Linked DNA regions of Homo sapiens. The protein of the gene in region 1 interacts with the protein of each later gene in a pairwise test. Each region holds a gene or a part of one and is shown in the gene's direction. Other genes may lie near its edges. The genes, in order: NBPF19, FTHL17, MXI1, MACO1, RAB3IL1, NEDD9 and DRD5.

Region 1 (3,500 bases):
TTTTACTTTCTTAACCACTTCCTTATGCTACCCATGAAACCTAGTTGGGGCTCTGTTGTGTGTGATTTCCCCTGGCTTATTCTTTACTTTTTCCTCCTTTTCCAGGCTCAGCAGGGAGCTGCTGGAGGTAGTAGAGCCTGAAGTCTTGCAGGACTCACTGGATAGATGTTATTCAACTCCTTCCAGTTGTCTTGAACAGCCTGACTCCTGCCAGCCCTATGGAAGTTCCTTTTATGCATTGGAGGAAAAACATGTTGGCTTTTCTCTTGACGTGGGAGGTGAGTACCTTTCTATGAAGGTGATAAGCATCCACTGAGTCTTCCATATAAAGATCATATTCCTGCTCCAAGTGGCCATTACTGAGCTGAGAGATGTCATTGCCGCAGTGAGGACCTATAGGCACATGTAGGTTGAATGAAACTCTAGTTCTACCTGGAAGCCCAGACATGGGATGGGTCAGTGAGCATGGCTCTCTTCCTAGTCTCAGGCCATACCTGTGGCACTCTGATTCTACTCTCATGACATTGGACCTGGGCAGATGTGACAAATTCAGAGAACTATGATTTTGACTCAAGGGTTTGTAGATTTCCTTTTTCACTCTAATTTCAGTGTCTAAAGTCCTCACAACCATGAACAATCTGAGTATTTGATGAGACAGGGCTAAATATTGCAGTTTTTCTCCCAGAAATCATTTGAGGGTATTTGCTTTAAATTGATTGGAAAAATATGGCATAACTGTTTGCACAAACTTGGGACAAATGATATTGGGATAACGATCTACTAGAATAGGGACATTTTACCCACAGTTTCTGGGAGAAAAACCGAGGAATTTCTATCATGACCAGCCTTCAGGCCTCCTGAAATATATCTCTCACAGTGTCCTATTCTTATGCTGAGGAGCCTGAGGTCCCTGTGTGAGGATTAGACAGTGGATTGTTATGTGTGTAGGGGAATCAGCTTAATGTGTCTGTCCATGTCTGAATTTATTGCAGAAATTGAAAAGAAGGGGAAGGGGAAGAAAAGAAGGGGAAGAAGATCAAAGAAGGAAAGAAGAAGGGGAAGAAAAGAAGGGGAAGAAGATCAAAACCCACCATGCCCCAGGTGACTTTCAGCAATTGTGGATGCTTAATTCTGTGTTAACACCTGGAGGCAACAGATTCAGGGAAACCAGAGTGTGTTTGATGTCATGTTTTCAACGAAGGCTGAATTACTCCTACTGTCATTGCTGTTGGTTTTCATTGCAGTAGATGTTTAGGTTTCCATTTCTTCCTCCCCTTATCATTTACTAGCGTACCATAGGTTGACCATACTTCAAAAGCTGTACTCTCATGGCCACTGCATCGAATTTTGAGCATATTTTATGGAAAACTATTGAGCTCACTCTTTTCATGATCACAGTTTGCTGTGTGTCATGAGGGCACTAACTCAGAGTGTCCTTTTACTCCCTTACCAGTATGTCACCTGGCCAATTCACTAGGTCACTTTCTCTCTGTCTCTGTCTCTGTCTCTCTCTCTGTCTCTGTCTCTCTCTCTCTCTCTGTCTTTCTCTTTCATTGTTTTCTACCTGGCCCTGTTCTATCCCAACATAAAGGCAATAATTTGTTACCTCATTAATGGATCTGTCCTTTTTCTTTTCAAACTCTTCCTTAACGTTAGCCATGAAATCTAGCTGGGGCTGTGTGGTTTCTGATTCCCCCTGGCTTATTCTTTACTTTTTCCCACTTTTCCAGGCTCAGCAGGGAGCTGCTGGATGAGAAAGGGCCTGAAGTCTTGCAGGACTCACTGGATAGATGTTATTCAACTCCTTCAGGTTGTCTTGAACTGACTGACTCATGCCAGCCCTACAGAAGTGCCTTTTACATATTGGAGCAACAGTGTGTTGGCTTGGCTGTTGACATGGATGGTGAGTACCTTTCTATGAAGGTGATAAGGATCCACTGAGTCTTCTGGTTAGGGTCATATTCCTACTGCAAGTGGCCCTTACTGAGCTGAGAGATGTCATTGCCACAGGGAGGACCTATAGGCACATGTAGGTTGAATGAAACTCTAGTTCCACTTGGCAGCCCAGACAAGGGATGGGTCAGTGAGCAAGGCTCTCTCCCTAGTCTCAGGCCATGCCTGTGGAGCCCTAATCCTACTCTCATGACACTGGACCTGGGCAGATGTGACAAATTCACACAACTCTGATTTTGTCTCAATTTTGTAGATCTTGTAGATTTCATCCTTCACTCTAATTTCAGCGTCTAAAATCCTCGCTACCATGAACAATCTGAGTATTTGATGAGACAGGGCTGAATAGTGCAGTTTTTCTCCTAGCAACCATTTGGGGGTATTTGCTTTAAATCGATTGGAAAAATATGGCATAACCATTTGCACAAACTTGGGACAAATGATATTGGGATAACGATCTACCAGAATAGGGAATTTTACCCACAGTTTCTGGGACAAAAACCAAGGAATCTCTATGGTGATCAGCCTTCAGGCCTCCTGAAGAATATCTCTCACAGTGTCCTATTCTCATGCTGAGGAGCCTGAAGTCCCTGTGTGAGGATTAGACAGTGGATTGTTATGTGTGTAGGAGAACCAGCTTCATATGTCTGTCCATGTCTGAACTTATTGCAGAAATTGAAAAGTACCAAGAAGTGGAAGAAGACCAAGACCCATCATGCCCCAGGTAACTTTGAGCAATTATGGATGCTTAATTCTGTGTTGACACCTGGAGATGCCAGGTCCAGGGAAAACAAGAGTGTGTTCAATTTCATGTTTTCAACGAAGGTTGAATTACTCCTACTGACATGGCTGTTGGTTTTCATTGCAGTAGATGTTTAGGTTTCCATTTCTTCCTCCCCTTAACATTTACTAACTTACTATAGGTTGACCATACCTCAAAGGCTGTATGGCAACTGCATGGAATCTTGAGCAAGTTTATGGAAAATTATTGAGCCCACTCTTTTCATGATCACTGTTCGCTGTGTGTCCCGAGGGCACTAACTCAGAGTGTCCTTTGACCCCTTCATCAGTGTGTCACCCGGCCAACTCGCTGAGCTCACTTTCTCCTCTCTCTCTCTCTCTCTCTCTCTCTCCCTCTCCCTGTCTTTCTCTTTCATTCTTTTCTACCTGGCCCTGGTCTATCCCAACATAAAGGCAATAATTCATTACCTCATTAATGGATCTGTCCTTTTTCTTTTTAAACAGTTCCTTATGTTAGCCATGAAATCTAGCTGGGGCTGTGTGGTTTCTGATTCCCCCTGGCTTATTCTTTACTTTTTCCTACTTTTCCAGGCTCAGCAGGGAGCTGCTGGCTGAGAAAGAGCCTGAAGTCTTGCAGGACCCACTGGATAGATGTTATTCGACTCCTTCAGGTTATCTTGAACTGCCTGACTTAGGCCAGCCCTACAGCAGTGCTGTTTACTCATTGGAGGAACAGTACCTTGGCTTGGCTCTTGACGTGGACAGTGAGTACCTTACTATGAAGGTGATAAGCCTCCACCTGGTCTTCC
Region 2 (2,445 bases), on another chromosome or scaffold:
AAAGACAATGACAGTGTTGGAACCTTCATACATTGTTAGTGGGCATGTAAAATGATGAGGGGACTTTGGAAAACAGTCTAGCAGTTCCTCAAAATGTTAAACAGAGTCTTAACATATGACCCAGCAATTCTAGTCCCAGGTATATACCCAAGGGAGTTGAAAACATATGTCTATTATAAAAATCCTCATAGCTGCATTAGTCATAATAGTCACAAAATGGAAACAACTCAAATGCCCATCGACTGATGAATGAGTAAATAAAATGTGGTATATCCATACAATGAAATATAATTCAGCCATAAAAAAGACAAAAGTTAAAGACATTATGCTAAATGAAAGAGGCCATATAAAGGCCGCATATAGTATGATTTATTTGAAATGTCCAGAGTAAGCAAATCTCTAGAAACAGAGATTTCATTTGTGGTTGTCGGGCCAGTGAGGAAGGCGAGATGGGCAGTAACTACTCATGGGTAGGGGATTTCATTTTGGAATAAGGAAAACGTTCTGAAATTAGATTTTTGGTGATGGGGTGATAGTTACACAACTTCATGAATATACTAAAAACCATGGAAATGTTTCAGAGGGTGAATTTTATGGCAGAGGAATTGTATCTCAATAGTGCAGTTTGTTGTTGTTGTTTGACACAAGTCTTGCTCTGTTGCCCAGGCTGGCGTGTAACGGCACAATCCCAGCTCACTGCAACCTCCGCCTCTTGGGTTCAAGCAATTCTCCTGCCTCAGCCTCCCGAGTAGCTGGGACTACAGGTGCGCGCGCCAGCATGCCTGGCTAATTTTTTTTGTATTTTTAGTAGAGACGGGGTTTCACCATGTTGGTCAGGTTGGTCTCCATGTCCTGACCTCGTGATCCGCCCGCCCCGGCCTCCCAAAGTGCTGGGATTACACGCGTGAGCTACCGTGCCCGGCCTAGAGCAGTTATTTTTAAAAGATGGTCTTGAAACATTCAGCGCCAAGTGGCCGGGATTTCCGACGGAAGTCAGCGCTTGTGCCCCCACCCCCTTGCCCCGCAACTCTGTCCCCCGCCGCCCCTCCCCCCACCGACAGAGCGCGCTCCTCCCTAACGGTCGCCACTGCCCACTTCCACTGCCCACTTCCGGTTTCATCGCACACCCGCCTTTCACTATCCGCCATTCTTGTCACCTCAGCTGCTGCCCTCGCTACCGCACCGACTTCGCCCGTGTGCTCGCCTGCACTTGCGCTGCCCGCCATGGCCACCGCCCAGCCGTCGCAGGTGCGCCAGAAGTACGACACCAACTGCGACGCCGCCATCAACAGCCACATCACGCTGGAGCTCTACACCTCCTACCTGTACCTGTCTATGGCCTTCTACTTCAACCGGGACGACGTGGCCCTGGAGAACTTCTTCCGCTACTTCCTGCGCCTGTCGGACGACAAAATGGAGCATGCCCAGAAGCTGATGAGGCTGCAGAACCTGCGCGGTGGCCACATCTGCCTTCACGATATCAGGAAGCCAGAGTGCCAAGGCTGGGAGAGCGGGCTCGTGGCCATGGAGTCCGCCTTCCACCTGGAGAAGAACGTCAACCAGAGCCTGCTGGATCTGTACCAGCTGGCCGTGGAGAAGGGCGACCCCCAGCTGTGCCACTTCCTGGAGAGCCACTACCTGCACGAGCAAGTCAAGACCATCAAAGAGCTGGGTGGCTACGTGAGCAACCTGCGCAAGATTTGTTCCCCGGAAGCCGGCCTGGCTGAGTACCTGTTCGACAAGCTCACCCTGGGCGGCCGCGTCAAAGAGACTTGAGCCCAGATGGGCCCCACAGCCACGGGGTCCCTTCCCTGGGTCAGGCCACTAGGCGGGGCGTGCATGTTGCCCTTTCAGAACGTTCTCTTCAGTTTTATCTTTCAGTTTTACCATTGTTAGCAAAAAAGTTATCTGGTTCTCAAAGCAATAAAGGTGTCCATTTGATACACCTGCAACTCTCACCTTTTAGGAATCAGGGCAAATCCCCATGCAGGTTTAAAGTAGGTATCCAGCAGTCTCTCCACCCACCCCTGCCCCATCTGCATGCAGCTCAGGATTTGCAGGGGTGGAGTGGAATGGTATTTTATGGGCCCCTGGAAAACACATTAGTCTTCCCTTTGTAAACTACCAGGGTATGTGGGGTGGGATGGGGTGGGGTGGTCACTCTTGGGCCCTGGTGGCTGTGGGTGCATGGGCACGGTAAAGTGTAAAACGTGGTCTGGAATTCATCATAGTGGTTGCCTCTGGGGAAGAAGTGAAGGAAATGGGATTGGGCAAGGATTAAAATAAACAAAGGGTCTTCAACTTTACATGAAAACTTGTAGTTTATTAAAATATGCCAATGTTAATGTTTGTGGATTCTGAGTAGCAAGTGGGGGCTCTGGGTGACAGCACAGCAGGGTACTTCTTTGGCAAGCTCACTTTGGGTGACAGTTGTAGTGGGAGCCT
Region 3 (3,500 bases), on another chromosome or scaffold:
GGGAGGCGGAGCTTGCAGTGAGCCGAGATCATGCCACTGCGCTCCAGCCTGGGCAACAGAGTGAGGTTCCGTCTCAAAAAAAAAAAAAAGAAAAGAAATGATGTTGTGCCTTTCTCAATCCATTGTGTCAGGAAGATACACGATGTCGAAGTTTTTACTACTGGTGATGTGAATTTTTATATGTAGATTTTAAAGTACAACACCCTTTATTTCTCTTTCCATCTATCCTAGAATATTTATCTTTGACAGAGTTAAAGAACAGAAGTCAACCAAAAAAGAATGGTTTGAATTTTACTGATTGTTCTTCCCAAAGCTTCCACCACATCAGGCTTCATATCACATTAAAAGATCCCAGAGGTGAACACTGGTGATTTGAAGTCTTACATTTGGAGAAAGGAGCTCATGAGCTCTTTAGGATTCTAAAACATGAGACAAGTGACAGAGTTTTTTTGTTTGTTTGTTTTTAGGACTCTGATTTTGTTTTTTGTTTTTGACTTTTTTAAGTGGAAATTTTCAAACATACTTAGAATAGAATAATGAACTCCTGTATACCCACCATTCAGTTTGAATAGCTGTCAACTTGTTTCATCTGTTCTTCACTACGCTCACCCTCAATATTTTTTCTGGAATGCTTTAACTCAAATCCCAGATAACATCATTTTGCCCCTAAATACTTTAGTATGTATCTTGAATAAATAGGATTTTTAAAAATGTAATTATAATGCTATTATAATACCCCACAAAATTAATTCAGATAATCTTTTTTAATATCATCTAATACCCAGTCTGTGATACATTTTCTCCAGTTGTCTCAAAAATGGCATTTTACCATTGGTATGTTTAAATCAGGATCCAAAGGCCACATTGCATTTGTTTGATGTGCCTTTTAAGATATTAATCTATAATAATTTTTTCTCTTCCCCCTACACCGTTTTGGTAGAAACAAAAACTGATTTCTACATAACATCTCAAAAAGACTTCTTTGGCAGAGAAAACATGAAGGAATATATAGGTATAGATCTGTGTGTTGTATATATGTACATATTTTTTTAAACATCAAGAGACTGAGTCATTTTTCTTATAGAATTTCCTACATCCTAGATTTGGCTGGTTGAATCCTCATGGTGTCATTTAACATGTTATGTCCTTTATATTGACTGTAAACTGGTTGGTAGATGCAGAATACTTCATAGGTGGTGCTTTGTACTTCCTGTTATGTCAGTATTGTGTGTAGTTGTTGTTGCACTTTTAATATTAATCAATAGGTTCAGGTAAGGTCATTTTAATACATTTATATAAATGTATAGCCTTTAACTTAACAGTTTTAGCAATTATTGCCCTTATTTCATTGGGTGTCATAAAATAGTGATTTTCTAATTGTGTCATTCCTCTTGTATTTATAAACTGTTTTTCTCCTATAAACATTTTCTCATCAACTTTTCGGTTATCCTGAAATAAAGTTCATACAGGGAAGGTGGGATAAATGCTTGGTCTTGGTTTTTGCTTTATCAGTTTTCCAAACAGAGTTGGTAACCTAGCAGCTTCCAGAAGTAACAAGTTTTGGTTTTACTATTTTTTGATTATATCATGAACTCATGTTTTGCTGTACTGAATGTGTTCCAATCCATTGCAGTCATCCTTTTAAATTCTTTTGAATGCTCAAACTGTCCCAGATTTGCTGAGTAGGAGCCTTTTAAATAGTTTTTTCATCCTTTTTAACGCAACCTTTTTAACACAACCCTAGGAGTTCTTGTTTTTCTGTTTTGTTATTTTTCTATGTAAAAGTTTATTTTTGTGTGGCAGTTTTCAAGAAAAGTCTACCAGAGGCAGTAGCAAGAACCTGAAGTACATGCTACATTTATCAGTAACAGTGAAATATAGCAGAAATAACCCTGACCTTGGTGTCCCAGTCTTTCCTCTATTGCTAACTAGCGGAAACCTCTTCTTAGGTCTTTAGGTTTTAGCTGTCCTTCCTGTTACCTCCTCCTTGTACCCACCCCAACTACCTCCAAATTTCAGAGAGGAGGGTGTATTTTCATCACTATAGCTCTCATTTTTTTTTAGTGTTCCCAGTGTACCTTACTTTAGCGGTACCTTACCAAGTACCATCCTTATCCTGAGCTGGCAACCTCCTTTTTGTAGTGTTATGGGGGCTTTTAGTTAACATCTGTGGTACACTTGGCTAAAGCAGTTTCTCATTTTACTTTGTTTTTTTGGGTTTTTAAAAAATTTTTTTAAACATATTTTTAAATTTTATTAAAATAGAGATGGGCCTTGTTGCCCAAGTGGTCTCAAACTCCTGGGCTCAAGCAATCCTCCTGCCTTGGCTTCCCAAAGTGCTGGGATTATAGGTGTGAGCCACTGTGTTGGCCATCATTTTACTTTATTTTGACTGAGTTCAGCATGCTCTTTTGGATAGTGTGCCTTGTTATTATCTTCTAGTTGTAGGTTGGATGAGTGTTCAGTGGTGCTGGGAAACAATGGCTTCTGAAGCAATTCGGATATAGAGCCAATATATGAATTCACAGATTATTTGGACAGCTGCCTACATTTTAAAAACATCTCTAGAATCTCTAAAACTTTTGAAGCAACAAGCCCTTTTGAAAAGTATATTCCTGGAAATAGCTTCACCCTGTCCTTTTGGCCTCACAAGAATCCACTTTTTTTTTTTTTTTGAGAGAGAGTGTCTCGCTCTGTCGCCTAGGCTGGAGTGCAGTGGCGTGATCTTGGCTCACTGCAACCTCTGCCTCCTAAGTTCAAGTGTTTCTGCTGCGTCAGCCTCCCAAGTAGCTGGGACTATAGGCGCGTGCCACCATGCCCAGCTAATTTTTCTATTTTTAGCCTAGACACGGGGTTTCACCATATTGGTCAGGCTGGTCTTGAACTCCTGACCTCGTGATCCACCTGCCTCAGCCTCCCAAAGTGCTTGGCCGCACCCGGCTGAATCCACTTTTTTTTTTTTTTTAAAGCAGTTGTGATTAGTGTGAACCCTTAAAAAGTCAGTGCCAAATGTGAAACATCAGGCTTTGAATTTAAGTAAGGTAACTGAAAAATCCTGGGTTTCACTCTAGCTCTGATGGGAGAAAACAACTTTTTAACTCCTTTTTGTTTTTAACATGTGTATTGATTTATGTATATTATTGATGATTGAATATCTAGTATTTAACAATTAAGATTTTTTTTTTTATTTTTAAGAGACAGGGTCTCACTCTGTCACACAGGCTGAAGTGCAGTGGTGAGACCTTGGCACACTGCAGCCTCAACCTCCTGGGCTCAAGAGTGATCCTCCCACCTTGGCCTCCCGAGTAGCTGGGACTACTGGATCACCCACTATACCCAGCTAATTTTTGTGTTGTTGTGTTTTTTTTGGTAGAAATGAGGTCTCACTTTGTTACCCAGGCTTGTCTCAAACTCCTGCACTCAAGTGATCTTCCTGCCTTAGCCTCCCAAAGTGCTGGGATTACGGACGTGAGCCACTGCGTCCAGCAACATTATCTATT
Region 4 (3,500 bases), about 120 Mb from region 1:
AAGGATTACCTGATATGGATTCTTCGATCCTTATACACCACAATGGAGGTATCCCAGCCAACAAAAAACTCTCCACAACTTTGCCAGAGATAGAATACCGAGAAAAAGGGAAAGAAAAGGACAAGGATGCCAAAAAACACAACCTTGGAATAAATAACAACAATATTCTACAACCTGTAGACTCTAAAATACAAGAGATTGAGTATATGGAAAACCATATCAATAGTAAAAGATTAAATAATGATCTTGTGGGAAGTACAGAAAATCTCTTGAAAGAGGACTCATGCACTGCTTCCTCAAAAAATTACAAAAATGCCAGTGGAGTTGTGAACTCTTCACCTCGAAGTCATAGCGCCACAAATGGGAGCATTCCTTCCTCATCTAGTAAAAATGAGAAGAAGCAGAAATGCACTAGCAAGAGCCCAAGTACACACAAGGACTTAATGGAAAACTGTATTCCTAATAACCAGCTAAGCAAACCAGACGCACTGGTCAGGTAAGTGCACATGCTGCATCCTTACTAACACTTTCCAGTAAACTTGACATACTCTTGACATACTCCCATATGGGCCTGTAGGGATTGTTTGTAATCAGATATTGTGACTAGTGACGTGTGGTGTTTTACATGAGTTTGTTGGCCACCTTGTGTTATTGTGTTGAAGCATTGATTTCAGCTCTTTGCAGTGTTCTGAATAATGAGTGACACTGATTACTTCCCACATGTGACAAATTGACCTGTAACTTGATTCTTCTAGTCGTGTTGTAAGGCACTTCTTTGGTCCTTGTCCTTTTCTGTTTGCATGTCCAGAGTTCTCTTGGCGTAAACACAAAAAGAAGAGTTTGTGCTTGTTCACGCAAATCTCTGTCAAACAGATATACATTGCAGGAGAGGGGTGAGAAAGTTGTCCTTACTACTTTGTGCTTGTTTTGTTTTTCTGTTTGTTTTTCTGCACTTAGAATATGAATTATCCTAGATAACTCTGGGAAAGTTAGATTTGAAAAGCAATCTCTTTCACAAAAATCCATGGAGAAACAGTGTTAGACACAAAGTTTAATTAGGAATGTTGCTTTTCTCATTTTAATTAAAAGAATTTTTTTTTTTTTTTGAGACGGAGTCTTGCTCTATTGCCCAGGCTGGCACGATCTCGGCTCACTGCAACCTCCGCCTCCTGGCTCCAAGTGATTCTCCTGCCTCAGCCTCCCAACTAACTGGGATTATAGGTGCTTGCCGCCACGCCAGGCTAATTTTTTTGTATTTTTAATAGTGACAGGATTTCACCATGTTGCCCAGGCTGGTCTCAAACTCCTGACCTCAGGTGATCCACCTGCTTCGGCCTCCCAAAGTCCTGGGATTACAGATGTGAGCCACCGTGCCCGGCCATAAAAGAATAACATTGTTTTATTACATTGACTGGCTCAGACTTAATTTTACTATATTTTATATGGCTTATGTTAGGCAAACACAAATATGTTCCTTTCACCTCAGATCTTTAATTTGGAAACTGAGATCTAAACTGGAGCTTTTTTGTGTGTATGTAACTCAAGAGGGCAATTGAAACTCTCCCCTTCCAGTAAGTTATATTCTTCTTTCTCTGGCTTGCTTTAGGCAGCCCTTTAGGCAGTCCGTTTATTCTAGGAGGGAGGCTTTCCAGCATTATAAATGGTATGAACTAGATTATTAATTTGTTTTAATTTTCTGATTGGCAGTTAAACTAAGCGAGGTATATTTGGGTTCTACTAATACAGGCTCTAGAGGTTTCACAGCCCCCAGGCTACTTTTGGAAGTGTGCTATTTGCTGTTGCCTGGCTGGCATCCATATCCATTTGTTAGGACATTCTGGCCATTGTGCCCAGCAGAAAAAACACGTGGAAGAGAACTCTCCTCCAGATGCCCATGGGAGAAAGACCAATTAGTTTACCTTCTATTTCAGAGGAATATCCCACAAATTCACTAAATGCTATACACAAAACATCTGTCACAGCTATTTACCATCCTTTCTCCTACACATGTTTTTTTTTTTTTTTGAGATAGGATCTCACTGTTTTGCCCAGGCTTGAGTGTAGTGGCGTGATCACAGCTAACTGTAGACTCTACCTCCCCAGGCTCAGGTTTTCCTCCCACCTCATCCTCCTGTGTAGCTGGGACTACAGGCGCATGCCACTATGCCTGGCTAATTTTTTAATTTTTTTGTAGAGAGGAGATCTCGCCATGTTGCCCAGGCTGACACAAGTTTAGTAATAGCGGTCAAGCTATTACTAAATGATGGTTTGTGATATTGATTGACTCTACTATCTGATCTGCTTTTAGTAGAGAAGTTCAAGGACCCAGATGGCTAATTGTCCAGTAAGCTGGAGATGATGACATGGGTCCAGTGCCCCCGTGCCTACACCTAAGGAGTATGCTGCTTCTTGTGGTCACTAATGCGTACTCTGCCTTGACCTACAGTGTCCCAGGTATTACTCTGTTTTGGAGAACTACTTACTATCAAATGACTAATAGACAACATTATATTTAAGTAGGTTTATAAGCTCCCATGGTATTATTTTCAACTTTTAATGTTATAAAAAATAAGGGGATCGATAGACTGGATTAAGAAAATGTGGCACATATACACCATGGAATACTATGCAGCCATAAAAAATGAAGAGTTCATGTCCTTTGTAGGGACATGGATGAAACTGGAAACCATCATTCTCAGCAAACTATCGCAAGGACAAAAAACCAAACACCACATGTTTTCACTCATAGGTGGGAATTGAACAAGGAGAACACATGGACACAGGAAGGGGAACATCACACTCCGGGGACTGTTGTGGGGTGGGGGGAGGGGGGAGGGATAGCATTAGGAGATACACCTAATACTACATGACGAGTTAATGGGTGCAGCACACCAACATGGCACGTGTATACATATGTAACAAACCTGCACATTGTGCACATGTACCCTAAAACTTAAAGTATAATAATAATAAAATAAAATAAAGAATACTATGCAAAGAATATAGGTTTTTAAATCACACCTTGGTTGGATCCTGGACCTTCTATTTACTGTCTGAGTGGCCTTGGGCATATTATTTGACCCCTCTGATTTCCATTTCTTGGAAAGTTGAGATAAAACTAATAGAATAGTGCTGTTGTTAAGGTACAGGCATTCAATAAATGTTGGTTCTCTTCCTTCCCCCCCCTCAAAAAAAAGGGTGATGTAAATATCCAATAATGGGAGAAATTTAAAATAAATTATGGTCCATCCATTTGATAAACTTTTCATATAGATACTATAAAATCATACTTTCAAGCCATATTAAAGAATATGGGGAAGTATGTCAAAGCATTTCATGAATAAAGGAGAAAGCAATTTAATGAAAAACAATTTTTTCTAATATACATAGAAAAATGATTTAAAGGGAAAATAACCAAATTGTTAACAATAGTTGTTATCCCTTGATAGTATTGGGCATTTATTTTTTCTTTTTATTTTCATACATTTTCACATTTTTCT
Region 5 (3,500 bases), on another chromosome or scaffold:
AGGTACACCGGCTGGGCGCGGGAACAACTTGGGGAATGGGTCATCTGGGCGTCCGTTGGCTCCTCACCACTCACGCAGGGACTGCCTTCTTCCTAGGAAGCTCACAAGATGGTTCGAGAAGCCAACATGAAGCAGGCGGCATCAGAAAAGCAGCTGAAGGAGGCTCGGGGCAAGGTGAGGCCCATCCCCGCCTGCCCAGGCCAGCCCAGGCACCCCCCCTGCCTCCCGGCTCAGCGAGCACTGAGCTTTGCTGCCCGAGTGGACGCTCACCTGGCCCGGTGGGGCCAGCAGGAATGGGTGAACCTAGGCCCAGGGAGGGAAGGGAAGGGTGGGGGTCTGAGATCACAGGGCCCAGTGTCCCGGGGCTCCATCAGTGATTCTGCTGCATGGCAGAGCCTTTTCTGGGATAGTGCTGGGGCTGGGAGGACCCTGTGATTATTGTACCTTCTTCCCTCTCCTCCCAGCCCCACTTTACAAAGCAGAAACCTCACTCAGTATGGCTGTCTGAGCCTGGGCAAGTCGCTTCCTCTCTCCAAGCCTGGTTGCCCATCTGCAAAATGTGAGGCCTGGGCCTTTCCTGGCTCCTGGGGGCGGTCCCAGAACTCTCATGGGAGGCCCAGCCAGCTCCCAGACACTTGTTCCTAACAGAATCCTGCTCACAGAGTGACCTTGGGCAGGCCATGTCGCCTCTGTGAGCCTCAGTTTCCCTATGTGTAAAACGAGTGTCTGGGTCTCTGCCTCGAAGGCTGTTCTGAGGGCGTCGGGTGGGACTAAGTGCCTGTCACTGCAGGGGTGCATTGTCCTGAGTTAGGCTGATAGGCGGTGGCAGCCAGGATGGCATCCAGTCTGGGTGAGGGTTGACAGCCATCCCATCCCATGCAGATCGACATGCTGCAGGCAGAGGTGACAGCCTTGAAGACGCTGGTCATCACGTCCACACCAGCCTCTCCCAACCGCGAGCTTCACCCCCAGCTGCTGAGCCCCACCAAGGCCGGGCCCCGAAAGGGCCACTCTCGCCACAAGAGCACCAGCAGCACCCTCTGCCCCGCCGTGTGTCCCGCTGCGGGACACACCCTCACCCCAGACAGAGAGGGCAAGGAGGTGAGGGTGGGAAGCGGGCTCTGGGCACGGGGAAGGGTGGCAGTGCCTGCGGTAGGCAGGGTCCGAGCCCAGTGAGGACCAGCCTGCCCCATGCTGTGTGACCTGGAGCCTGTCCTGCGCCTCTCTGGGATGTGAGGGCTGGGCAGGTCCTTTCTCTCCAACCTCCTGTGATCTGAGGCACTTGGCCTGCAGCCTCCAGGGTATACCATCTGGGGACCTGAGGCCCCCTCCCTGCCCCACTGACTCCAAGCAGTAGGTAGTGGTCTCTGCACCTGAGGCTGGCTTTGGCCCTGAGGATCTGGGGCCTCCACTGAGACACACACTTCCTTGGCCTTAAGAGGCCAAGCAGCAGCCACTGGGCCTCAGGGGAGAGGCTGCCTGGACCCCGTGTGGCCACAGCCTCGAGCCCCAGGACCACCTGGTGACAGCCCTGTGCTCAAGGGGTTTCTGGCACCCTCTGACTGTGGGGCTGAGACAAGCGTGGCCTTTGGAGAGGTGTCTCCGTCCCACCTCAGCTGGCCACACCAGTTGCTGGGCCCAGGCTGGGCTGACACTCATGGTCATGGGTCTGTAGGCAAATGAGGCCACCTGTCAGCACCTCAGCTTTCTCACCTGATAAATGGGGCCTCCCGGGGCTGCTGGAGGAACCAGAGACAGGGACATCAAGAGCTGAGTTCAAGGCTGCACCCAGGTAGTGCCTCAGAGGGCTGTGGTGCCTTCAGCTTCCTGGGTCCCTGGCGCCAGCCCACTCGACTCCATCCTGGCTTCCACCTCTGTCTCCAGGGCCTCCAGGGAAGACGAGCAGGCCCTCATCCACCTCCTGAGCTCTGAGCTTCTGAATGTACATTAACTTCTCCCCTTCCTCCTGTTCTGTCTCTGTGCACCTGTCTACCTGTCTGTCTGTCTGTCTGTCTGTCCATCCGGCCCAGCCCGGGCTGGCCCCGCTGCTCTCCCTGCTCCTCTGCGTGGTCCCCAGCAAGGCGGTTCACCTCACCTACGAGCCGGCCTGGCCGCTCCCACCTGGGGAGCCCCCAGCCCCTGCCTCCACTCCCTCTCCCTCCTTTTCCCGACAGGTAAATGGCTCCAAAGAGGGGCCTCCCACTTTGCCCCCTCCCAGCCTCCCTCATTCTGCATGTGGCCTGGAGCAGGCCAGCAGTCACCTCTGAGGTGTGGGCCCAGGGCAGCCTGTGTGTGTCCCCTCCTGTGTGCACGTGCTTGTGTGTGCTTGTGTACCTGCTGGTACCTGTGGCCTCCTGCTAGTTGCTCTTTGACTTTTCCTCCTCAAGGAGGCACTGAGGGTCTTCAGGACAAAGCCCTGCACCCCACTCTAAAATCCAGTAGCGCCAAGAAATTTAACACCGGCCTGGAAACAAAACTTTTAGTTCTAAATTCTTTGGTGCAAAGGGCAGAAGGGAGCTCTGCTGCTGCTGGACTTGGCTTCCCTGCACGGCTGCTGGGGATCGACCTGCTGGCTTGCTGGGCCTGCCCCACGTCCTCCCTCGCTCCCCTTCAGCTCAGCCTGCATCTTCTATGCTGGCCCCAGTACCCTGACCGCCCCCACCCTCGCTTGCCCTCCCCCACAGGTGGACACAATCCTGTTTGCAGAGTTCCAGGCCTGGAGGGAATCCCCCACCCTGGACAAGACCTGCCCCTTCCTGGAAAGGGTGTACCGAGAGGACGTGGGCCCCTGCCTGGACTTCACAATGCAGGAGGTGAGGCATGGCAGGGGCGGGGCCAGCTGGGGGACACACCCCTCCGCCAGGGCCCAGCCCCTTACCACCCTGCCTGCCTCCCTGGTCTGCCACAGCTCTCGGTGCTGGTACGGGCCGCCGTGGAGGACAACACGCTCACCATTGAGCCGGTGGCTTCGCAGACGCTGCCCACAGTGAAGGTGGCCGAGGTTGACTGTAGCAGCACCAAGTAAGCTGAGGGTCTTAGCTCCTTCCTGCCCATGTGGGAAAGCCCCGCCAAGCCGTGTGTTTACTGTGCCGAGGGGTGGTCAGGATGCAGCAGCGCCGACAGGACAGGGACAGTTGCTGCCCCCACAGGGCAAGGAGGCAGTTTGGCAGGTTTCCTGTGGACCCCCAGGCTTTCCAGAGAGGCCGGGAGCTAGGGTCTGCCTCTTCCTGACTGGTCTGCTCTGTGCCCTCCCCTTCTTTTCTTGAACCATGATTATCAGTTGCTGGCTGTGCCCCTGCCAATAAATAACGACGCAGTAGCCCTGGCATTTGTCCTCCAGCTACTCACCTGGCATTGAGCAGGGGAGCAGCAGAACAAAATAGCCAGGGTGGAGCAAGGGGCAGAAATTGGGGAGGATTTCACCTTGGCAGCCAAGAGCCTGGCTGGGGATGGCTGGTGCCCTGGTGGGAGGCTCATCACGGAGAGGGAGCATTTGAGCC
Region 6 (3,500 bases), on another chromosome or scaffold:
TAGTAAATTACGGGGGCTTCATTTATTAAGAATTTTCTACAAAATCCCCTTCATATACAGAGCATGTTCTTAATTGGGCGGGGGCTGGCGGGGTTAGGTGATTGCCTCGATGGCCTTGGTTTGCTTACCCAGTGAAGGCTCCCTCCTGAGGGTCTGGAGGTGTATGGTTGTGCTGTTTCCCAGGAGGGTGATGGAAGGGTCTCTGCGCAGCTGTGTTTGAGCAGAAGCCCCCGAGACCCCACCCCGTTTGTGCCTGCCAGGCCCGAGGCCCCGCCCACCTCAGGCCCAGCCCGGGCGGGGGCTCAGCGGCCCCTTGGCCTGGCTGCTAATGGCTGAGCAGAGACGCTTTTGTGGCTTTGCCAAATTTCTGAGCCCTTACGTGCCTACATTAAAATTCTAAATTATTTATCTCGTCTACCATGCAACAAATTCATTCTTTAACGTTTTGACTGAAGAAAAATTACAGACGGAACTTACAATGCCATTAAGAAAGGTGCATTCTGAAAGTCAGAGTCCTGTGTTCTGGTTGAATGGGGTAGGTCAGGGAAAGGAGAACCTGTGTGCCGTGAAACGCTTTGGAAAGGACTTTGAAAGTATTCGTATTTCCTCAAGCAAGACCGAGGAAAATAATGACAGAGGATCTTTAATTTAGTCAATATGGTCATGCATAAGCTATTAAATTCCCAATTATTTCCTTGCTTTGATATTTTGGTTTAAAATGCTTTATTTTTCTCTGTATGATTTTTGCAACCAATCCAAATGTAGGACTCCTGTCCTTTTCCTTTTTAAACCTTGTATGAGATCTATGGATTTAAAATCACTAAAACATGCTTTGAAAAATATCAACTTGGTTATTTATGTATTTATGCATTTATTTATTTATTTAGTAAACCCATTTGCAGAGCTAAATGGCTTACCTACACAGAGATAAAAGCCTTTAGAGTACTGAAGGTGCCTGATAATACCAAATTTAGCAAGTTGTACAGTGCGTAACATGCCAAGGATTCCTTTAGCATCCTTTCCTTGCTGGGATACACGTCAGTCCCTGTTCTCAGAATTCAGTGGTTCCCTGTCTCTCCCTTCACTCCAGTCTTCTGAAAAAAACACCTTCCTCTCCACTTTTCTTTTTTTCTTTTTTTGAGATCAAGTCTCACTCTGTCGCCCAGGCTGGAGTGCAGTGGTGCCACCTCAGCTCACTGCGACCTCTGCCTCCTGGGTTCAAGTGATTCTCCTGTCTCGGCCTCCTGAGTAGCTGGGATTACAGGTGCCCACCACCATGCCTGGATAAGTTTTGTATTTTTAGTAGAGATGGGTTTCACTGTGTTGGTCAGGCTGGTCTCGAACTCTTGACCTCAGGTGATCCACCTGCCTCAGCCTCCCAAAGTGCTGGGATTACAGGTGTGAGCCACCGCACCCGGCCTTTTTGCAAATTCTCTCCCACTTTCGTGCTTTTATGACCTCATTGGTTCTCCTTTTATCTTCTTCTTCTTCTTTTCAGGCTTTCCTTACGCTTCTTTAATACTGACTTCCGTAGATCTTACTTCCAACCCCCTACTCCCCAGCCCCCCACCCGCACCTATCTACTGCCGCCCCCTTGCCTCCCACACACAGATGTGACACTTTTAATGCACATTCTGTAGCCCTCATTTTTCCTTCTCCTTAGACTCTGCTATGGGAAATCTTGGTCCCTCACTGCCCCCATTCATCTGCCTCTCTGTTTGCGTTTACATGACTTGAGTGGCCTGTCAGTCCCGCTAGTAAAGTCTCCTCATCCATCCACTCTGTTTAAACAATCAAACTCTGAAACCTGTGTCTCCTGGACCATCCTATAATCCCTAAAATAGGCTGTTATGCTTTTCACCTCTGCCCTACTCTGTTAGCACTACCTTACTTATTGACCTCTTTCAATCAAATCGTTATCTAAAGGATACCTGTAACTCAGATAGGTTGCCTACTGGGCCTGTTTAGTTTTAAGTAAACCCCACTGAATATGAGAGACCCACCCTCTATTTGTATGTAGAGGCAGATTGATCGAAAAGTCCTTGAATAAAAAACATGATCTAGGGTCTGTGAAGTTTTGAGGGGGCCAAGACTTGGTGTTTTATGCTCTTGTGTTAGAGACATGATAGAGCATGGGCTTTGAAGAAAGGCATTTCTGTTCCTTATGGCTTATAGCTCTGGACCTTAGGCAAGTTAAGCTCTCTAAGCCTCATTTTACAGCATTGTCTGTAAAATAGGGATAAGAATAACTGCCTCATACTATTCGAAGACCTGGGATAATATATGAATGAAGTACTTACTATGGCTCTTGGCATATAGTAAGCAGACAATGCAAGCTGGCTCCAGCTCTCTTTGTATGGTAGATGCTCAATAGATGTTGAAAGGATGGTATGTACTCAAGACTTGGTGACAGAATTATGTCAAAATCCCAGTTACTAGGTTGAGATGGTTGAATATTGTTGAGTATTCTGTGGGCCTGGATGTGTATTGTAAGCATAGGGCCCTAACAGCATATGACCCCACTTGCTAATATACTAATGACTTGATTCCTTCATTATTGTTCATTGGACTCAGTATTCCTGAAATTACAAGACTTTGCTCATAGAAGACAAAATGTATACACAAATAGCCATTTAAGAGGATCTTAATACTATATGGCATAGTAAAAAAACAACAACAACAACAAAAAACATGGGCTTTGTTTCAGATCCCACTTTTGTTACTTTCTAACAGTATAGTTTTATGCTAGCTACTTTAAACCTTCTTTTCCTCATTTATCAAATGAGAATAATACCTGTCTTGTCAGATAGTTATAGGATATAATATATGACAATTGTCCTTTCTAGCAGATATTAGGCATTTAATAAATGGCAGCTATTATATGATGTTATATACACATACCCACAAAGATATACAGATATATAGATATGGAATTTTTATATAGATAAAAGTGTTTAAAGGAGACATTCACTAGAATTGTTTACCCATAACAGAAATATCAGTGAGGAAGAGAAAGTCGTCAATTCAAAAAACCAAAGATAAAATCCAAAGAATGTAAGTTGGGAGTACATGAGAAGTTCAGGGTGAACTCTCTTATCCAATTGCAGTCAATTAGAATGACATAAATGTAAAGTAAGAGGTCTTGGTTGTCTATGTTTAGATCATTTTAGGGTCAGAAAGAAATCTGAACAAATTGGTTTGAAATGCCAACCACTAGGACCAAGGCAATACTCTGCAAGAACATATAGGCTGAATTACCAGGACTTCTCGCCAAGACAAATGAAACAGGGCCATTGGGAAGAAATACTATATTTCTAACTTAAAATGCCAGAGAGTAACTGACGGTTTCCTAGGTGATAGATGGTTGCAAAGAGTACGGGCATGAAAAGGGGACACACACACACAAAAAAAAACCCTGTTTATACTTTGCCAACAACACCCCCCTCCATCTTATTTACTTTGAACATTCCAGCCATCTCTCTGCAGTAATTCCTGCTGGC
Region 7 (4,112 bases), on another chromosome or scaffold:
AGTGGTCCAGCTCCCAGAAGATGAGGAGAGACCAGAGGTGAGGATGGCCCTTCAGTTTCAGGTTTAGGCACCTGGACAGATGGTCTTGCCCTCTCCAGCGGCAAAAAGCACTGAGGGGGAAGGAGGTTGGGGGAAGGGACTGTGTAGGCTGAGCAGCTTAAGTCTGAGAAGGTGGGCCACTTGCAGATGTTGGTCCAGGGTACAGGTGCGTTTGGTGGAGGGGGAGACTAGGAAGGGAGGAGAAAGTCCAGTCTGTTTCTAGACCTCACCATGCTGCAGGTGTCTGGGCCAGCAGGTCGCAGCCGGAGCTATGCAGCTGGCTGCTGTCACATCCCTTTCTCTCCCAGCTGCCTTCAGCTGAGCTTAACGCCAGTAGAGGCCGAAACACTTCACAAATGCAACTTGTCAGCTGGGAGGTGCACTCAGAGCTCAGGAACACTGTTTTCCCTCTTTATTGTTTTCCATCATTCTTTTTTTTCAGTTTGGGTTTTGGGCCCCGTCAGTTCCTTTTCTGTTAAACACTGAGCTATTTATCCATCCCTCTCAAGGTTGAAAAAGAGAAAGGCTGTAAAAGTGCCCTGCAAAGAAGAGGCCTCCAACTCTATGGGGGTGGGGGGCTCTCTTCCTCCTCTTGTCTTCTGAGTTCATTCCGAATTATTCCCCAAAGGAAAAATCGTTCAAGGACTGGGGGCGGTGGTGGGGAAAAGGACAATCTCCCAAGAGGTCAGCTGAAGCCCCAGCCTCAGGGTGTTGAGAGAGGGGCTGGGGGAAGCGGGAGCCTGTTCCTAGGAGACACTGTCTACTGGACACCTCATCCTAGACGGCTTCCATGAGTTCTGACACTGTCCCAGGAGTAGGAATCATTATCCCACGCTGTGGAGAAGGAAACCAAGGCCGGGTAAAGTTATGTAGGGCCCTTAAAGTCGCAGAGCCAGGAATAAAGTCCGGATTGGGACTCGGGTCTGTGGGTAATCCAAGGCTGCCCCGCTTACCCTTCAAATGCTCTTTCCCCCTCCGGAAGCCCTCGCGTCCTCATCCTTACCCCACCTCTTGTTCCCCAAGCGTGGCCAGGGCTAAGGCTCCAGGGATGCGCCAAGCACCCTTCGGTTTTCCCGGGGAGAATTTTCCCCGGCCCGGGGACTAGGGTCTGGCGCTGGGGCGCCCCTCGGACCTGCGGGATCGCCCCTACACTCTGGCGCGCTGAGGGCGGTGAGCGAGGGCGCCAAGGCACAGGTGGGGCGGGAGTCGAGCGCGGAGGCTCGGGGGGCGGGACGCGGGGCCTGGGAGCGGCCAGGGACCGCGGCAGCGCCTCAGTGCCAGCCTGGCGCCCGCGACTGCCTGCCCCAGCCCCTCAGTGGCGGCTTGCTCTCTTCTCTCGCTCCGAACCAGACACAGCCGCTGCCGCTGCCGTCCGGCGCGCTACAGACTCCCGAGAACAGCCCTGGCTGTCAGCGAGCACCAGCCGCTTCCTGTCCCCATCGCGGAGACTGGAGGGGCGCACCACGGCCATGGAGCCAGAGGCGCTTCAGGAGGCAAGAGAAGTCCCCGCGCGCTCCGCAGCCCGGCGCAGCTCATGGTGAGCGCCCTCTGGGGCTCGAGGGTCCCTTGGCTGAGGGGGCGCATCCTCGGGGTGCCCGATGGGGCTGCCTGGGGGTCGCAGGGCTGAAGTTGGGACCGCGCACAGACCGCCCCTGCAGTCCAGCCCGAAATGCTGCCGCCAGGCAGCAACGGCACCGCGTACCCGGGGCAGTTCGCTCTATACCAGCAGCTGGCGCAGGGGAACGCCGTGGGGGGCTCGGCGGGGGCACCGCCACTGGGGCCCTCACAGGTGGTCACCGCCTGCCTGCTGACCCTACTCATCATCTGGACCCTGCTGGGCAACGTGCTGGTGTGCGCAGCCATCGTGCGGAGCCGCCACCTGCGCGCCAACATGACCAACGTCTTCATCGTGTCTCTGGCCGTGTCAGACCTTTTCGTGGCGCTGCTGGTCATGCCCTGGAAGGCAGTCGCCGAGGTGGCCGGTTACTGGCCCTTTGGAGCGTTCTGCGACGTCTGGGTGGCCTTCGACATCATGTGCTCCACTGCCTCCATCCTGAACCTGTGCGTCATCAGCGTGGACCGCTACTGGGCCATCTCCAGGCCCTTCCGCTACAAGCGCAAGATGACTCAGCGCATGGCCTTGGTCATGGTCGGCCTGGCATGGACCTTGTCCATCCTCATCTCCTTCATTCCGGTCCAGCTCAACTGGCACAGGGACCAGGCGGCCTCTTGGGGCGGGCTGGACCTGCCAAACAACCTGGCCAACTGGACGCCCTGGGAGGAGGACTTTTGGGAGCCCGACGTGAATGCAGAGAACTGTGACTCCAGCCTGAATCGAACCTACGCCATCTCTTCCTCGCTCATCAGCTTCTACATCCCCGTTGCCATCATGATCGTGACCTACACGCGCATCTACCGCATCGCCCAGGTGCAGATCCGCAGGATTTCCTCCCTGGAGAGGGCCGCAGAGCACGCGCAGAGCTGCCGGAGCAGCGCAGCCTGCGCGCCCGACACCAGCCTGCGCGCTTCCATCAAGAAGGAGACCAAGGTTCTCAAGACCCTGTCGGTGATCATGGGGGTCTTCGTGTGTTGCTGGCTGCCCTTCTTCATCCTTAACTGCATGGTCCCTTTCTGCAGTGGACACCCCGAAGGCCCTCCGGCCGGCTTCCCCTGCGTCAGTGAGACCACCTTCGACGTCTTCGTCTGGTTCGGCTGGGCTAACTCCTCACTCAACCCCGTCATCTATGCCTTCAACGCCGACTTTCAGAAGGTGTTTGCCCAGCTGCTGGGGTGCAGCCACTTCTGCTCCCGCACGCCGGTGGAGACGGTGAACATCAGCAATGAGCTCATCTCCTACAACCAAGACATCGTCTTCCACAAGGAAATCGCAGCTGCCTACATCCACATGATGCCCAACGCCGTTACCCCCGGCAACCGGGAGGTGGACAACGACGAGGAGGAGGGTCCTTTCGATCGCATGTTCCAGATCTATCAGACGTCCCCAGATGGTGACCCTGTTGCTGAGTCTGTCTGGGAGCTGGACTGCGAGGGGGAGATTTCTTTAGACAAAATAACACCTTTCACCCCGAATGGATTCCATTAAACTGCATTAAGAAACCCCCTCATGGATCTGCATAACCGCACAGACATTGACAAGCACGCACACACACGCAAATACATGCCTTTCCAGTGCTGCTCCCTTTATCATGTGTTTCTGTGTAGTAGCTCGTGTGCTTAGAAACCTCACCCCATTGATTGGTAGTTCGAAGAATTGGCAGAAGCAGTTGCAATAAACTCAGTCAAATGTACCCAGCCTACCAGAGATGGACCAACGATCCTATGAGAGAAGAGAGTATGGTGCTGGGTCCTTAAAAAAAAAAATGATACTTGGTCCTTAAAAAATATGCTCTCCCCTCCCTTTTTAAACAAATGGCTTGTTCAGTCACTTGTTTGTGTTTGAATTGATTTTTAAACAGCAGGTTGTGTGTGTGTGCAGTGATGTGGTGGGAGCACAGCTTTCCTGGGTCTGGATTCCCGTGGCTTTGTGCTTATGTCATTTCTTCTCTCTGTGCTGGTGGGGGCCTCTTTACCATAGCTTAAGAAGTATCCCTGATTTATTCTGGTGTCTAATAAACACAGATTATTTGTATTATGGGGTGACTATCTTTGCTTTGCTACATTGGGTTTCAGGATTGCTTCTGAAGAAACGATGAGTGCATCCTTAAAATGCAAAGAAGATATTTGCTGGGTCTGGAAGTACATGCTTAATCTCTTTACAGTTTGGCCTTAAAGATACACCAGGGCAAAGGACCTTGAGGAGCTTCTGTTTTCTCAGGTTTCTTTTTATTACTTATACCCATGTTGGGTCTGTGCTGAAACCTGGCTTCAATGGCATGGCATTAGATCTTCTCAAGACCAGATGTTTTTTTTCTCATATGGAATCTTTTTTGAAGTAACATAAGACAACTCTCCTTATTCCTAGACAGATGCGATCAGTTCATTGAAAAGATCATGTAGAATAATATCTTGAATCTTTCTCCATCTGACAACTGTAGCATGTTTTAGAATGACAT

The links.
Region 2: the proteins of NBPF19 (region 1) and FTHL17 interact in a two-hybrid assay, tested with the Homo sapiens proteins (one large-scale study listed by BioGRID).
Region 3: the proteins of NBPF19 (region 1) and MXI1 interact in a two-hybrid assay, tested with the Homo sapiens proteins (one large-scale study listed by BioGRID).
Region 4: the proteins of NBPF19 (region 1) and MACO1 interact in a two-hybrid assay, tested with the Homo sapiens proteins (one large-scale study listed by BioGRID).
Region 5: the proteins of NBPF19 (region 1) and RAB3IL1 interact in a two-hybrid assay, tested with the Homo sapiens proteins (one large-scale study listed by BioGRID).
Region 6: the proteins of NBPF19 (region 1) and NEDD9 interact in a two-hybrid assay, tested with the Homo sapiens proteins (one large-scale study listed by BioGRID).
Region 7: the proteins of NBPF19 (region 1) and DRD5 interact in a two-hybrid assay, tested with the Homo sapiens proteins (one large-scale study listed by BioGRID).

Annotation. Positions count from the first base shown.
Region 1 is NC_000001.11:149,548,045-149,551,544, forward strand, and holds part of NBPF19 (NBPF family member NBPF19), read left to right. Parts: intron 1-105; coding exon 106-278; intron 279-992; coding exon 993-1,101; intron 1,102-1,730; coding exon 1,731-1,903; intron 1,904-2,622; coding exon 2,623-2,674; intron 2,675-3,282; coding exon 3,283-3,455; intron 3,456-3,500.
Region 2 is NC_000023.11:31,070,733-31,073,177, reverse strand, and holds FTHL17 (ferritin heavy polypeptide-like 17), read left to right. Parts: upstream 1-1,136; 5' UTR 1,137-1,224; coding exon 1,225-1,776; 3' UTR 1,777-1,945; downstream 1,946-2,445.
Region 3 is NC_000010.11:110,280,605-110,284,104, forward strand, and holds part of MXI1 (max-interacting protein 1), read left to right. Parts: intron 1-3,500. UniProt on the Homo sapiens protein: Transcriptional repressor. MXI1 binds with MAX to form a sequence-specific DNA-binding protein complex which recognizes the core sequence 5'-CAC[GA]TG-3'. MXI1 thus antagonizes MYC transcriptional activity by competing for MAX.
Region 4 is NC_000001.11:25,458,397-25,461,896, forward strand, and holds part of MACO1 (macoilin), read left to right. Parts: coding exon 1-496; intron 497-3,500. UniProt on the Homo sapiens protein: Plays a role in the regulation of neuronal activity.
Region 5 is NC_000011.10:61,904,067-61,907,566, reverse strand, and holds part of RAB3IL1 (guanine nucleotide exchange factor for Rab-3A), read left to right. Parts: coding exon 1-2; intron 3-96; coding exon 97-174; intron 175-464; coding exon of another isoform or gene 465-559; intron 560-882; coding exon 883-1,101; intron 1,102-2,684; coding exon 2,685-2,813; intron 2,814-2,908; coding exon 2,909-3,021; intron 3,022-3,500. UniProt on the Homo sapiens protein: Guanine nucleotide exchange factor (GEF) which may activate RAB3A, a GTPase that regulates synaptic vesicle exocytosis. Promotes the exchange of GDP to GTP, converting inactive GDP-bound Rab proteins into their active GTP-bound form.
Region 6 is NC_000006.12:11,226,169-11,229,668, reverse strand, and holds part of NEDD9 (enhancer of filamentation 1), read left to right. Parts: intron 1-3,500. UniProt on the Homo sapiens protein: Scaffolding protein which plays a central coordinating role for tyrosine-kinase-based signaling related to cell adhesion. As a focal adhesion protein, plays a role in embryonic fibroblast migration.
Region 7 is NC_000004.12:9,780,322-9,784,433, forward strand, and holds DRD5 (D(1B) dopamine receptor), read left to right. Parts: upstream 1-1,312; 5' UTR 1,313-1,708; coding exon 1,709-3,142; 3' UTR 3,143-3,688; downstream 3,689-4,112. UniProt on the Homo sapiens protein: Dopamine receptor whose activity is mediated by G proteins which activate adenylyl cyclase.